Homo sapiens: one gene and its partners. The protein of the gene in region 3 purifies or fractionates together with the protein of the main gene of each other region. This does not show direct contact. Each region holds a gene or a part of one and is shown on either strand. Other genes may lie near its edges.

What was found. The genes of interacting proteins can lie anywhere in the genome.
Region 1: the proteins of ARHGAP44 (region 3) and BCL7B purify together in Homo sapiens (affinity purification with mass spectrometry; one large-scale study listed by BioGRID and IntAct). This does not show direct contact.
Region 2: the proteins of ARHGAP44 (region 3) and LMNB2 purify together in Homo sapiens (affinity purification with mass spectrometry, with the first as the bait; one large-scale study listed by BioGRID). This does not show direct contact.
Region 4: the proteins of ARHGAP44 (region 3) and FNBP1L purify together in Homo sapiens (affinity purification with mass spectrometry; 2 studies listed by BioGRID and IntAct, with this or other methods). This does not show direct contact.

Annotation. Positions count from the first base shown.
Region 1 is NC_000007.14:73,538,274-73,540,690, forward strand, and holds part of BCL7B (B-cell CLL/lymphoma 7 protein family member B), read right to left. Parts: intron 1,780-2,417; coding exon 1,609-1,779; intron 1-1,608. UniProt on the Homo sapiens protein: Positive regulator of apoptosis. Plays a role in the Wnt signaling pathway, negatively regulating the expression of Wnt signaling components CTNNB1 and HMGA1.
Region 2 is NC_000019.10:2,439,960-2,443,459, reverse strand, and holds part of LMNB2 (lamin-B2), read left to right. Parts: intron 1-3,500. UniProt on the Homo sapiens protein: Lamins are intermediate filament proteins that assemble into a filamentous meshwork, and which constitute the major components of the nuclear lamina, a fibrous layer on the nucleoplasmic side of the inner nuclear membrane.
Region 3 is NC_000017.11:12,792,498-12,795,997, forward strand, and holds part of ARHGAP44 (rho GTPase-activating protein 44), read left to right. Parts: intron 1-3,500. UniProt on the Homo sapiens protein: GTPase-activating protein (GAP) that stimulates the GTPase activity of Rho-type GTPases. Thereby, controls Rho-type GTPases cycling between their active GTP-bound and inactive GDP-bound states. Acts as a GAP at least for CDC42 and RAC1.
Region 4 is NC_000001.11:93,531,618-93,535,117, reverse strand, and holds part of FNBP1L (formin-binding protein 1-like), read right to left. Parts: intron 2,197-3,500; coding exon 2,050-2,196; intron 414-2,049; coding exon 210-413; intron 1-209. UniProt on the Homo sapiens protein: Required to coordinate membrane tubulation with reorganization of the actin cytoskeleton during endocytosis. May bind to lipids such as phosphatidylinositol 4,5-bisphosphate and phosphatidylserine and promote membrane invagination and the formation of tubules.

The DNA.
Region 1 (2,417 bases), on a different chromosome or scaffold from region 3:
TAGCCCAAACATCACAACTCTAACTCAATCTCCCAGTTTTCTGAGAGTTGCTATGAGGACGAGATGAAGTAATAAAACACAGGAGCTAAGAACAGCACATGCCAAATAGTAAGAACACAATAAATATTAACTACAATTGGCATTTCCCATGGAGAAACAAGTTCCATTTTGTAGTTGGCTGTTAACAGGTCACAGCACAGGAGAAGGTAACAAGGGCCTAAGACACATCTATATATCCATATTATAACAAGAAACCTGGGTCGGGCATGGTGGCTCACACCTATAATCCCAGCTACTCTGGAGGCTGAGGTGGGAGGATCACTTGAAGCCCAGGAGTTCAAGACCAGCCTGGGCAACATAGTGAGACTCCATTTCTACAGAAAATTAAAAGAAAGCCAGGCATGGTGGCAAAGGCTTACAGTCCTACTACTACGGAGTCTGAGGCAAGAGGATCACTTGACCCCAGGAGTTCAAGACTGCAGTGAGCTAGGATTCAGCCACTGCATTCTAGCCTGGGCAACAGAGCAAGACCCTATCTCTTTAAAAAAAAAAAAAAAAAAAAAAAGAAAAGAAAAAAATTTAGCATGTAATGCAGACAGCATAAATGCTGAAAATAGAAGGACTTAAAGTGACATTCATTCCAACAGTTACTAGACTGGCTATGTGATCTCAGACAAGCGATTTAACCTTTCTCTGTTTTTTTTTGAGATGAAGTCTAGCTCTGTCGCCAGGCTGGAGTGCCCTGGTGCGATCTTGGCTCACTGCAACCTCTGCCTCCTGGGTTTAAGTGATTCTCCTGCCTCAGCCTCCCGAGTAGCTGGGATTACAGGCTTGCGCCACCATGCCTGGCTAATTTTTGTATTTTTAGTAGAGATGGGGTTTCACCATGTTGGTCAGGCTGGTCTCTAACTCTTGACCTCAGGTGATCCACCCACTTCGGCCTCCCAAAGTGCTGGGATTACAGGTGTGAGCCACCGCGCCAGGTCTTTTTTTTTTGAGATGGAGTCTCACTCTGTTGCCCAGGCAAGAATACACTGGTGTGATCTCAGCTCACTGTAACCTCTGCTTCTTGGGTTCAAGTGATTCTTCTGCCTCAGCCTCCGGAGTAGCTGGGATTACAGGCACATGCCACCACGCCCAACTAAATTTTTTATGTTTTTAGTAGAGACGGTTTTGCCATGTTGGTCAGGCTGGTCTTGAACTCCTGGCCTCAAGTGACCCGCTCACCTCGACCTCCCAAAGTGCTGGGATTACAGGTGTGAGCCACCATGCCCAGCCCAATTTAACCTTTCTAAGCTTTGAATGTCCATTTTCCTCATCTGTAAAAGAAGACAATAGCTGCCACCTCACAGGATTTTTGAGAGAATTATAGCAGGCGTCAAATACTCAAGTTCCTTCCACACAGCCTGGCACGCAACTCTAATGCTTGTTTTCTCCCTTCCCTCTGTGAAAGGGGAAACTATAATCATTCCTAAGCTATCGAGAAAGGGCTTGGTGCTGCCTGGCTCTGAGGTGCTCTCTCGAGCCTGTTACTCTAAAGACGAGACACAACAAGAGCAGAAAGCAAGGCCCTTCTAGGAAACTCATCCTCGGCCAACCACGACTCACCCTCCAGGATCTCCTGGCCCAGCGTTGGGGGCTGGGAGTCATCCGTGCGGAAGTCGGAGGTGTGTGCTGGGCTCAGGGACTCACTCTGCTGGGGGCTGGGGCTTGAGTTGGTGCTGCTGTCCACCTTAAGCTGATAGACGTCAGACACGGAACTCTGGTTGCTGTTTTCGTCTGAAAACCAAACAGAACAAAGGCAGCAGCTGAGCGTGGTCATTTTCCTCAAGAGGAACTCTGGACAGAGCCAAGGGCCTGGCATCACTTTAGGCAGCCAAGGATACAACTGAGTATAATAATCATTGTGCCCGGCCTACACGACATAGATTCTAAGCACCAGAGGCAGCCAGAATCTTTATGTTTATGCAACATTACACTTTAGGAAGGTCAGGATATGCTTATTAAACTCTTCTTTATTATCCACTGATTGCAGCTTGTGGAAGGGAGGGATGTAGCTGTGTCTCTGGTCAGTACTTCTCAATCCTTCTCACATCATAAGATGTGTAGAAAATGACATTTGTCAGGCATCCTTGGGCATCTGAAGGAGGCTGGTGGTGTCTGAAGGTGGTGAGCTCAGGCTTCGGCTGCCGGACTGACGGATTAGCACCTGGGAGTTCTGCCTGAAGGCTTAAAGTCACCATCAAGGTGCAAAACTTAAGAGTTACCAGGCCGAGGCCAGGCACGGTGGCTCACGCCTGTAATCCCAGCACTTTGGGAGGCCGAGGTGGGCAGATCACAAGGTCAGGACATCGAGACCATCCTGGCTAACACGGTGAAACCCCGTCTCTACTAAAATTACAAAAAATTAGCCGGCT
Region 2 (3,500 bases), on a different chromosome or scaffold from region 3:
GCTTGAGAATCCACGTTGTCCCTGAGTTGGAGTGTGGCCAGAGGAATGACCGGGGACCCTGTGTCCAACAGTGCCGGGGCCCCCATGCGTGGTTGCAGGTGACCTCTCCATCCGACGCCCTCCTCCTTCCTGGGCTGGCGCTGCTCCCGTGGAGAGCTGACTTCCCTTCCCCAACAGGAGACCCTCCAGGTCAGCCCAGGGACCACCGCCCGCCTGCCCGGGGCCTGGGGCTCCAGGAGGGACCATTTGTGCCCTGATGGTGGCCATGAGCCGGGGACCCTGGGGCCAGGCACCAGCCAGGACAGGCTGCCCACTCTCAGCACATCCCACACAGCACAGGTGCACCCCGGGACCTGCTCAGGCAGCAGCTCTGTGCTGTCTACCTCCAGCACCCACCGTGTTTAATAAGCAGGTTCATCAGTGGAGCCATGCAGGCTGTGGGATGACTAGAGCTTGGTCAGGGGTGCACGGAGCTCTGAAATGTCAGAACTACACCGTGCAGATGGGACAGAGCTGCTGCTGGCCCCGCACCAGGCGCCTCTCAACTGTTCACTTTAAGATGTTGAAATGTACAGGATGTGAATTTCACCTCAAATTAAAACATTAAAAAAAGAAAATGGTACACAGTGCCCGCCCTAGGTGTTGAGGAATTCCCAGTTCACAATCTCCTGAGCAGTGCGTGGCATCTACAGAGAGGCCCGTCTTTTCCTTTTCATTAAGACAGGGTCTCTGTTGCCTAGGCTGGAGCTCAGTGGCACAATCATAGCTCGCTGCAGCCTCGAACTCCCAGGCTCAGGTGATCCTGCCTCAGCCCCACCCCGAGTAGCTGGGACCCCAGGCATGCACCACTACACCCAACTAATTTTTTTTATTTTTTATTTATTTCCTTTTGAGACATAGTCTTGCTCTGTCACCCAGGCTGGAGTGCAGTGGTGCAATCTCGGCTCACTGCAACATCCACCTCCCAAATTCAAACGATTCTCCTGCCTCAGCCTCCTGAATAGTTGGGATTAGAGGCTCACACCACCTTGCCCAGCTAATTTTTTTACCAAGTTGGCCAGGCTGGTCTCAAACTCCTGGACTTAAGCGATCCACCCGCCTTGGCCTCCCAGAGTGCTGGGATTACAGATGTAAACCACCATGCCTGGCCTAATTTTTTTATTATTTGTAGAGATGAGGTCTCGCTATGTTGCTCAAGCTGGTCTTCAACTCCCAGGCTAAAGTGATCCTCCCACCTCAGCCTCCCAAAGCACTGGGTATAGGTATGAGCCACTGGGCCAAGCCTAATGTTTTTCTTATCCTAACAAATTTATCTCCAAAACCCCACAATGAGAGAAACACTGGGAGCAGCGTGCAGGACCTAACAAGCCAGAGCCTGCCACAAAACCCCGGGCACCCAGCTGAAGATTCTAACTCAGCACCTGGCGCTTAGGAAACGGGTCTGAGCCCTGGGAGCCCGCACCCTGCCTTCTGGGTGTGCCCTGCAGTCCTGCGGAACCCTGTGGTTTAGACCGAGTTGCTGAGGAGCTTCCCGGATTCCCCGATCTCCGCTCCAGTCCTCTGAGCTGGTCTGCAGCCTGCCTCTTCCACCTCACCCCTGGGCCTTTGCACTGCTGCTCGCCTGCCTGGAAGGCTCTTTCAGCAGCGGTGGCCCTGGCTCCTCCAGCACTGCTCCTTCAGGTCTCTGCCCCCAGGGTTGTCTCCCAGCCCCACTCCAGCCCTGCCCCCAGGCAACCTCCTGTCTGGTAGGCAGCCTGTGTCGCTGATGCCTCCCTCCGCAAGGACGTCCCGCAGTGTAAGGCAAGGGTTCTAGATGCACCTCTGGTGTGAGAGCGGTGCCTTCCACACAGCGGGCACTCGGGATTTGCCCAACAGATTCCACCTTCCCCCAAACCCCTGCAAAAATCCCCAGCAGGGCCGCAGGGCTCGCAGCCCTCTGAGCGAAAGGGCCTGGCCTGTGTGGCATGTGCTCAGAGATGCGGGATCTGCACCCCAGACCCTGCTGGAGATCTGCTCCATGTGGGGAAGTAGAGCTTAGTGTCCCTGAGGGCTGCGGACAGGGGTGCATCAGCCTTGTGGCCGAAGTCTCTGGCCTTCACGCCTCTCAAAAGCAAGCAGATGCCACACCTCTAGTGTGTGGAGAGCCCTGGCTACACCAGGTCCAGCGCCAGAGCGGCTGGCCGCCCTGCCCTGGCGGGACACAACCGGAGCCAGACCCGGGATTCAGGGTACCCGGCACGGATGCTTTTACCTGGCAGGTGGCCTTAGACCTGGTTGTCTGACCCCCGACCAGGGACCCCTCACACGAGAGACCTGTTTACACAGTGGCTGCCCCGTAGCTCGTGTCTGACCTGTGTCCAGGGTATGCCTGTCCGACCATCGCTCTGGCACTGGGATCCCAGCCTGGGGCAGCTCCTGGTTCTTCTGACAGAAGGCGCAAATTCAGCACAGCGATAGGAAACAAGTTTGAAGATTTATTACGGATCCTAGGCAGGGAGGGCACTGTGAGCTGGGAAGGCAGCCCTCCCTCCCCGGGTCACACAAGGAAGGAAGGAAGAGTCCCACAGAGAGTGAGAGCTTGGCAGCTAGTGAGAGAGAGAGGGAGATGGGTGGATGATGGATGGATGGCTGGATGGGTGGACGGATGATGGATGGATGAGTAGATGGATGGATGATGGATAGATAATGGATAGATAGATGATGGATGGATGAGTGGATAGATGGATGGATGGATGGATGAGTAGATGGATGAATGGATAGATGATTGAGGGATGGATGGAAGGATGGATGGATGGAGATGATGGATAGATGATGGATGGATGAGTAGATGGATGGATGGATGATGGGTGGATGGATAGATGGACAGATGAGTGGATGGATGGATGGATGATGGGTGGATGGATGGATGGATGATGGGTAGATGGATAGACAGTAATAGATAGAGCAATAGATAGATATAGCTATCTGTAAGGCTGGGTGCGGTGGCTCATGCCTGTAATCCCAGCACTTTGGGAGGCCAAGGCGGACAGATCACTTGAGGATGGGAGTTCAAGACCAGGCTAACCAACATGGAGAAACCCCGTCTCTACTAAAAATACAAAATTATCTGGGCGTGCTGGCACTTGCCTGTAATCTCAGCTACTTGGGAGGCTGAGGGAGGAGAATCGCTTGAACCCGGGAGGTGGAGGTTGCAGTGAACCGAGATCGCACCATTGCACTCCAGCCTGGGCAACAAGAGCGAAACTCCATCTCAAAAAAAAAAAAAAAGATACAGCCATCTGTAGAATTGATATATACGGACATAGATTATATAGATAAATACAGTTATTGATGGAGATATACTTAGACAGACATACGGTCACTTTCAGCTATGGGTCACTTTCATTTCTTGGGCAAATGCCTAGGTGGTCTTTTGAAAGGCCCTGGGGGACCAGGCGCAGTGGTTCACGCCTGTAATCCCAGCACTTTGGAGGCCGAGGCGGGCAGATCACCTGAGGTTG
Region 3 (3,500 bases):
TCTCCTCTATTATTGAGAATGTTTTGGGTCATGATCCTATGAGTATTGGAGTAAAAGAGCCCGCGGTTGCCTGTTAATTTCTTAAATCAGTAGAAGCACATAGGATTGGAATTTGGACTTTAGGTGTGCAGTTATAAAGCACTTGATTTTTATCCTTATATTTTTCTAAAGTTTTCCTCTTTCCGAGGGAGGACTAAGAGGACTTGAAAGTCCTTCCTCATGGCTCGCCTTCCCTAAGTTGCAGGTTCTGGAGTTCTGAATATAAAACTTAAAGTCATTTTAACAATGTAGGAGTTGCCCTACTTAAACATACTCTGCTGGGTTACTAGTACTTTCTCTCGAAGTGCTCACATCCAAGTCATATTAAGGGCGTCAGCGACTATGAAAAGATTTGATAAAACCCATTGTATTTAACTGACAAAAGTTTCAGCCCCTCCTTGGTCTGTTTCCTTAGTCTGCACGTGTTCCTTCTGCTTTGAACTTTCCCCTTTCTGTCCCTTCACTTCAATCCGTCCTTTGGGAAGCACTCCCTGGCCACTGTGTGCCTCATGGTTAGGAGCACAGGCTTTCCACTGGGACAGGTTTAGTTTGTTGCTGACTATGGAATCCAGAGCTTAATTCTCTGCACATTAATTTTCTTACTTGCAAAATGGGAGTAGTTAAGGATTGCACTGTGGTAATGTGGTAACCACAGTGATAACATAGATAACCTGTGAAAAGTACCTAGCAGTGCTCAGCACTAGGAAATGCTTAATAAATGGTAGCTACAAGTATCTCTGGGCAAATGTTATGACTGTTATTGAATTATATGCACTATGGCATATGTACCTTTATTAGATGTCTACTGTGTCCCAGACACTGCTCTGGTTCAGGGAGTATTGCAGTACAGGGCAAACAAAATTCCTGTTTGCCTGGAACCTGCATTCTAGGCCGGGCGTGGTGGCTCACGCCTGTAGTCCCAGCACTTTGGGAGGCCAAGGAGGGTGGATCACCTGAGGTCAGGAGTTCGAGACCAGCCTGGCCAACATGGCGAAACCCCGTCTCTACTAAAAATACAAAAATTAGCTGGGCATGGTGGCGGGCGCCTGTAATCCCAGCTACTGGGGAGTCTGAGGCGGGAGAATCGCTTGAACCCGGGAGGTGGAGGTTGCAGTGAGCCAAGCTTGCACCACTGTACTCCAGCCTGGGCGACAGAGTGAGACTCCATCTCACACAAAAAAAAAAAAAGGAACCTGCATTCTAAAAGCATGCTATGGTAATAATGGCTCACTTGTGTTATAATTTTTATCTTTTGTCATTTACTTTCCCCACTAGACTTTAAACTCTTTGGAGGCAGGGACAGCTGCCCTAACGCTGCCCTGTATAGAAGGTCCTCTGTCATTCTTTGGCAATGGAATGAGTAAGTGAACAAAAGATCCATGCGCTATAGATAGGGGAGTCTTTTGAAGTAGTTCAAAGATGGGGAAAGCTCCTGATACCATGTTTCTTTAACGTTGTGATGGTGGTCAGAGGAGAGAGGAACAGCTGCACTTCTGGGCATTGGAAGGGCAGAGCAAGATTTACGGGAGAATTTGGTTCTTGCCTGATTGATGGCAGCATTTTTCTTTTTACCTTCAAGAGAGTCTAGCAGTTGCTGGAGTGAGAAGCATACCGAAAGGCATAGAGTATTTTTCTTGGAAGTGACATTTGCTTGATGTTGGGTGGAGCAAAGCCCTGAGCTAAAATTTGGCACCCACGAGACCCACTAAGATAAAGCAAATGGAAGAAGTAATGGTACCTTGATTTGGTGGGGAGGACTTTTTTTTCCAGTCTGCACAGTGGGTTCACAGCGGCCCCATCCTCAGAGGGCTGTCATGAGGTTGGAGGGAGCCTGGTCCACTGAAGTCCTCAACAAATGGTTGAGGTGGTTCGTTGTCACTGAACACCCATTCAAGTCTTCCAAAAATAATGTTGGCCTCCTAAGTAGAAAAGGATTCTTAGAAACGATTTCAACAGCTACTGCCCAGTGATGGTCCAAGTGGGGCTTGTCCTCTTGTTTAAAATGAGTGATGTTCAAAGTGTCTGGGAGTAGGTGAGGAACTGTGGGTGTGCGGGAAGGAGAAGGCTGGTTGGGTCGGGTTGAATTGTGTGGATTTAGAGGCTATGAGTTGGGGAGTGAAGACAAAGTTTTGTCTCTGGAGCCTTGTTTTCTATTCCTTGACTGCTTTGCATACATTGCAAAGCAGGCTTGGTTTCTGGTGCACAGCTTTGCAGGTATCATTGCTGCTGTGCAGCTCTTGGAATTCAGCTGCAGAGGCCTAGGCATTAGCCAGTGGTGGGGAGCCTGGGAACTGGAGGCTGAGGCTGCAGCAGCCTCTAGGAGCACTGGTGCTGCAGACATTTTTGTCTGGGCCAAAGCTGCCAAAGTCAGTGAGGATCTTTTCCTTGAAGGTATCTCTGAGACATTGCCCTGCCTTGTAGTAGGCCTTCTAAGAGCCGTGACCCAATCAATAGGACATTAGAGGAAAATCAGAACCAATTCCAAATTTGGCTTTGGACTGCTTTGTTCCTTCCCTTCTATTTCCCTTACTGTGAGTTAGACCTGCCAGACCAACACAGGCCCTGCCATGGGCTTCCTGTTAGCCCAGCAGGGCTGGGCGGACCCAAACTCGTCCCCCAAAGAGCGCTGTGCACATTGAATGGGTCTCAGAGCAAAGTTTTTCATTAGAGTTTTATGGAAGCCCAGGCCTTACTGCCTGTTCTGCTGTATATATGTGAGAGATAACAGAGTGTACTAACCCACCGATTACTGGGTTAGCAAATCTGGAGAGAATATTCTTTGCTCTTATCTTCTAAGATCCTCACTGTGTGGGTCTGCTGGGTTTCACCTTCTGCTGAGCTGCTGTCAGCAGTCAGCCTGAAGCTGTCTAGATTTCCTGCAGAATTCTGTTATCCCAGACCTGCAAGTCATCGTGAGGAAGCCATGCTCTTAAATAGCAATTAATCATTTTCCTTCCCAGTTTGTCTCCATCAAAGTAATTTATCAATGATTTTTTTTTTTTAATGATGGGCAATAAGGACCATTTTTTTTTTCTCTAGAGAAAGTGGATCAGTAGCCATACAAATATACTGGTAATTTATGGTCATTCCTTTTAGAGGGGATTAGTAAGTATCCCTTTTATTAATAATCAAAAGCAGTTTATTTCAAATGCTATTTGATAAAGACAGCAAATAATAAAATTATGCTACATCTGTGTGGATGTAGTTGTAGGTCAGGCAGGAGGTTGGGGGGAGAGTCAGAGAGTCAGGCCTCTTCCCTCGGGCGTGGGGCATCCAATTGAGCTGGCACCTGGAACTCCACCGCCTTTGGGAAGCTTGTGGCTGTCTAGCAATTTCAAACTCTTCTTTCTGTCCAGGAAGCAGATGTTTTGCTTTCATTTTCCAACTTTAGAGCTTATTTTTAGAATAAATGTTTATTTTCCCACAGAATTCAATTTACTTTTTTTAACCTTCATTTTGGT
Region 4 (3,500 bases), on a different chromosome or scaffold from region 3:
TTACCCATTATTAAGCGGTAGTCAAATGTTAAATCCATAAATAACTGTTACTGTTAAGGTATTCCTAATATAAGTGAAAGGTTAACTGAATCATTCAAATTGAAAATATTTATTCTCCATTAATGGTAAATCATTTTGCATTCAATACCCACATTGTTTTAGTTGGTACACTTAAACTGATTAGCATATAGGAATTTTATGACTTTTACCTTTGGCTTCTTTCCAAAGAGCCACAATTTGCCCTTGGCCTTTCCTACTGTGGTTTTGGCATCCATCTTCCCACTCTCCTGTTTGGATGCACTGATAGTCCCATCAGAAATGGTTCTATATATATGTTGACTGTAATCTTCAAATGGAAAGTCTCCTGGAGGTTCAAAACCAGATTTGAAGGAGTCTACCACCATTTGAGAGTCCTATACAAAAGAAACTAGGTTTTAAAACTGTTTCACTTGCTCATAATTCTACATCAGCTTTCATAACTTTTTCAGTACAAAAAAACAACAAATATAAGTTTAAATAAATAATTCCACAATAATCATTAAGGTAAATAATTTATTCCCATGAATGTGTAACAAACTCAAAGTATTTTAATCCCAAAAGAAAAATATACTTGCAAATTACAACTTAATTAATTTATAATATTCATAAAATGTTTTTACTTGGTAGCTTTAACCACCTGAAATTCATCTGAAGACTACTTAGCTGAAAAAGACCTAACTGACAAAAAGAATACAGAAAGAGGTTATTAACAAGTAGAAATTCTGAGAAGTTTCAAAGGAAAAAGGCTTTTTGCTTTAAAAGATAGATGTCAACAAAGAAGCTAATCTTTGGAATGAGGAAAGAACATCTAATTGTAAAAGAGAGTAAAAGATGAGTAGGAAAGGCTTTCTAACTCATCCAACATGGGAAAAGATAAATAAATTAAATATATACTGTGGAATGTTAACAGAGCAACAGGGAAAAGATCTCATAAACACTACTGAGTGCAAACAACATTTGAAAGTTTAATACCATGTATTTAAAATTTTTAAACTCACATAAATATTGTTTTTAGACATACATACCTCTACCTGAATGCTTTAGTGATACCTTAAACTCATTATTTTCAGAGTATCTCTACAAATTCCTCCCCACCCCTAACAACAACCTCTCTTTTGTTGCCTATTTCTGTTAACAGTACATTTTGCCCTTCATTTAGTCAAAAGTCATCCTTAAGTCATAGCTTACTTTTGTCAGTAATGCTACCCTCAGCAATAATTTGCTAAAGGGTAATTAGAGAGAAGAGGGCTGTAATGATATTGTATAAACTTGTATCCAGCCATGCTGAAAGCCAAAAATCCTCTTTTCTAAATTTAAGTGAGAATTCTATTAGCTGTAACAGAAAGGATCCTCACTAATATAATATCTACTTGATAGGTTCATGAAGACTAAAATATGTGACACATATCTGATATCCTGCAAACACCAGTTCTCTTCTCTTGCCACTGCCTTTCCTCAGTTTCTGCCAACCATGCTTTTTGATCACTCAATCAACATTTACTGAGATAAAAGACCCTAGTCCTTAATCAAGATACAATGTGATTACCTATCCTCAAGGGGAGGAGGGCTATGCTGTTTCATCTGCACATAATGCCCTCCTTCCTCCTCCTCATTGGTCATCACTCCATATGCTACCCACATTTCTTGATCCAGCTCAAGTGCTAAAGGCAACTCTAACCACATACTTCTCTAAATTTTCACTAAACTAATATAATAGTATAACACAATTTGTAACACACAGTTCCTAGGTTAGACTCTTTGATAAGAACTGAAAACTTAGTGGGAGAAGAGAGTTAGAAATCTTTTTTTTTTTTTTAAGAAAGAATTAGAACTTTTGCATGTAGAATGAATCTCAGAACTCAAAGGAATCTATTGCAAGACATTCTTCTACAGAATATAATTTAGAACCACACATCAGATTACTTTATCCCTTTCTCAACTCATTTCACTAACTTAAACTGCACACCTAAACCAAACAGATGCATTCAAAGATAATTATTTAGCACTTACTCTTCTTTCATCAACTGATTTTGCTGCAAGAATCATTCCTTCCAAACATTTTGAAATGATGGGAATAACTTTGCGTTCTGAGTCAGCAAATCCTCTGTAACACTCACTGAGTTTAATAGTCCTTCGTTCGTCCATTTCTTGTAGTTGCTAATAATCAAGAATTTTTTTAAAAAGAGAAAACTGAATTTTTCAATCATTCTAAAGGAGTTCAATTAGTGATCCCCCATCAAAAATTAAATATTTCTACCCTCATAGTTACACTGTTGTTAATACCTTTTAACAAGTGCTATTGACTTATAATACTTAAAACCTGGGACATGCTAAACAACAAAAGAAAGAAAAAAAATAGTAAGGCACTTAGTATTGTTTTCCTAAAACCAGATGACACTGGGATTCTAGCCTTCTAAAAGGACCCCTTACTGGCTATCAGCTCCCTGCCCCATAGCACTCCCACCTTTTACTATTCAATCAGAGTAGTTCTTGTTTATGCTTCCAGAAAACATTTCATTTGATGACAAAATTCTGGTGCTTTTTTTTTTTTTTAAAGCAACTGGCCCATAACATATACAAGACTGAGACTTTTTTTTTTTTTTTTTTTTGAGGCGGAGTCTCGCTCTGTCGCCAGGCTGGATGGAGTGCAGTTGCGCGATCTCGGCTCACTGCAACCTCCACCTCCCAGGTTCAAGCAATTCTCCTGCCTCGGTCTCTCAAGTAGCTGGGACTACAGGCACGTGCCACCATGCCCAGCTAATTTTTGTATTTTTAGTAGCGATGGGGTTTCACCATGTTGGCCAGGATGGTCTCAATCTCTTGACCTCGTGATCCACCTGCCTCGGCCTCCCAAAGTGCTGGGATTACAGGCGTGAGCCACTGCCCCCGGCCAAGTCTGAGACTTCTAACCTCAAGTTAATTCAGGATACTTTGGTAAGACTTGGCTGGACCAACAGTCCATACTAGTTGTTTATCAACAGGTACCCAGACCTACTGCAGTGTACACCTCAGAGCTGGGGATACGTGAGGAAAAACAGGAAGTCACAAGCTCAAAGTGGCACATATAGAATCCTCACAACTGAAAATTCACTGGCACATGCCACTAGGAAATATGTTGGAACACATAAAGTCCAATAACTTAAAGGCATTTTTTTTTTGACATATCCTATTTGCCAGCACTGACCTTGCTGTTTCATTGACAGCAGTTACACTCCTTGTCTCCCCAAACTCCCACAGCCTGGGACTTTGAGACCTGCATTTTCACAGAATTGCTCCATAGAAAGGTCCAAATCCAAGTATCAGGCCCAAAACACAAAAGGTAGTTTATCTCCACAAGTTATAGTTTCCCCAGAATATGAAGACTTAACTACTAAGCCTAGAAAAGCATCACAGTGAAGACTGGCAGGCTTGGCCCTCTGGATTCAATGACCAGAATTCTGGTCCCCACTCCAGTTCATTAT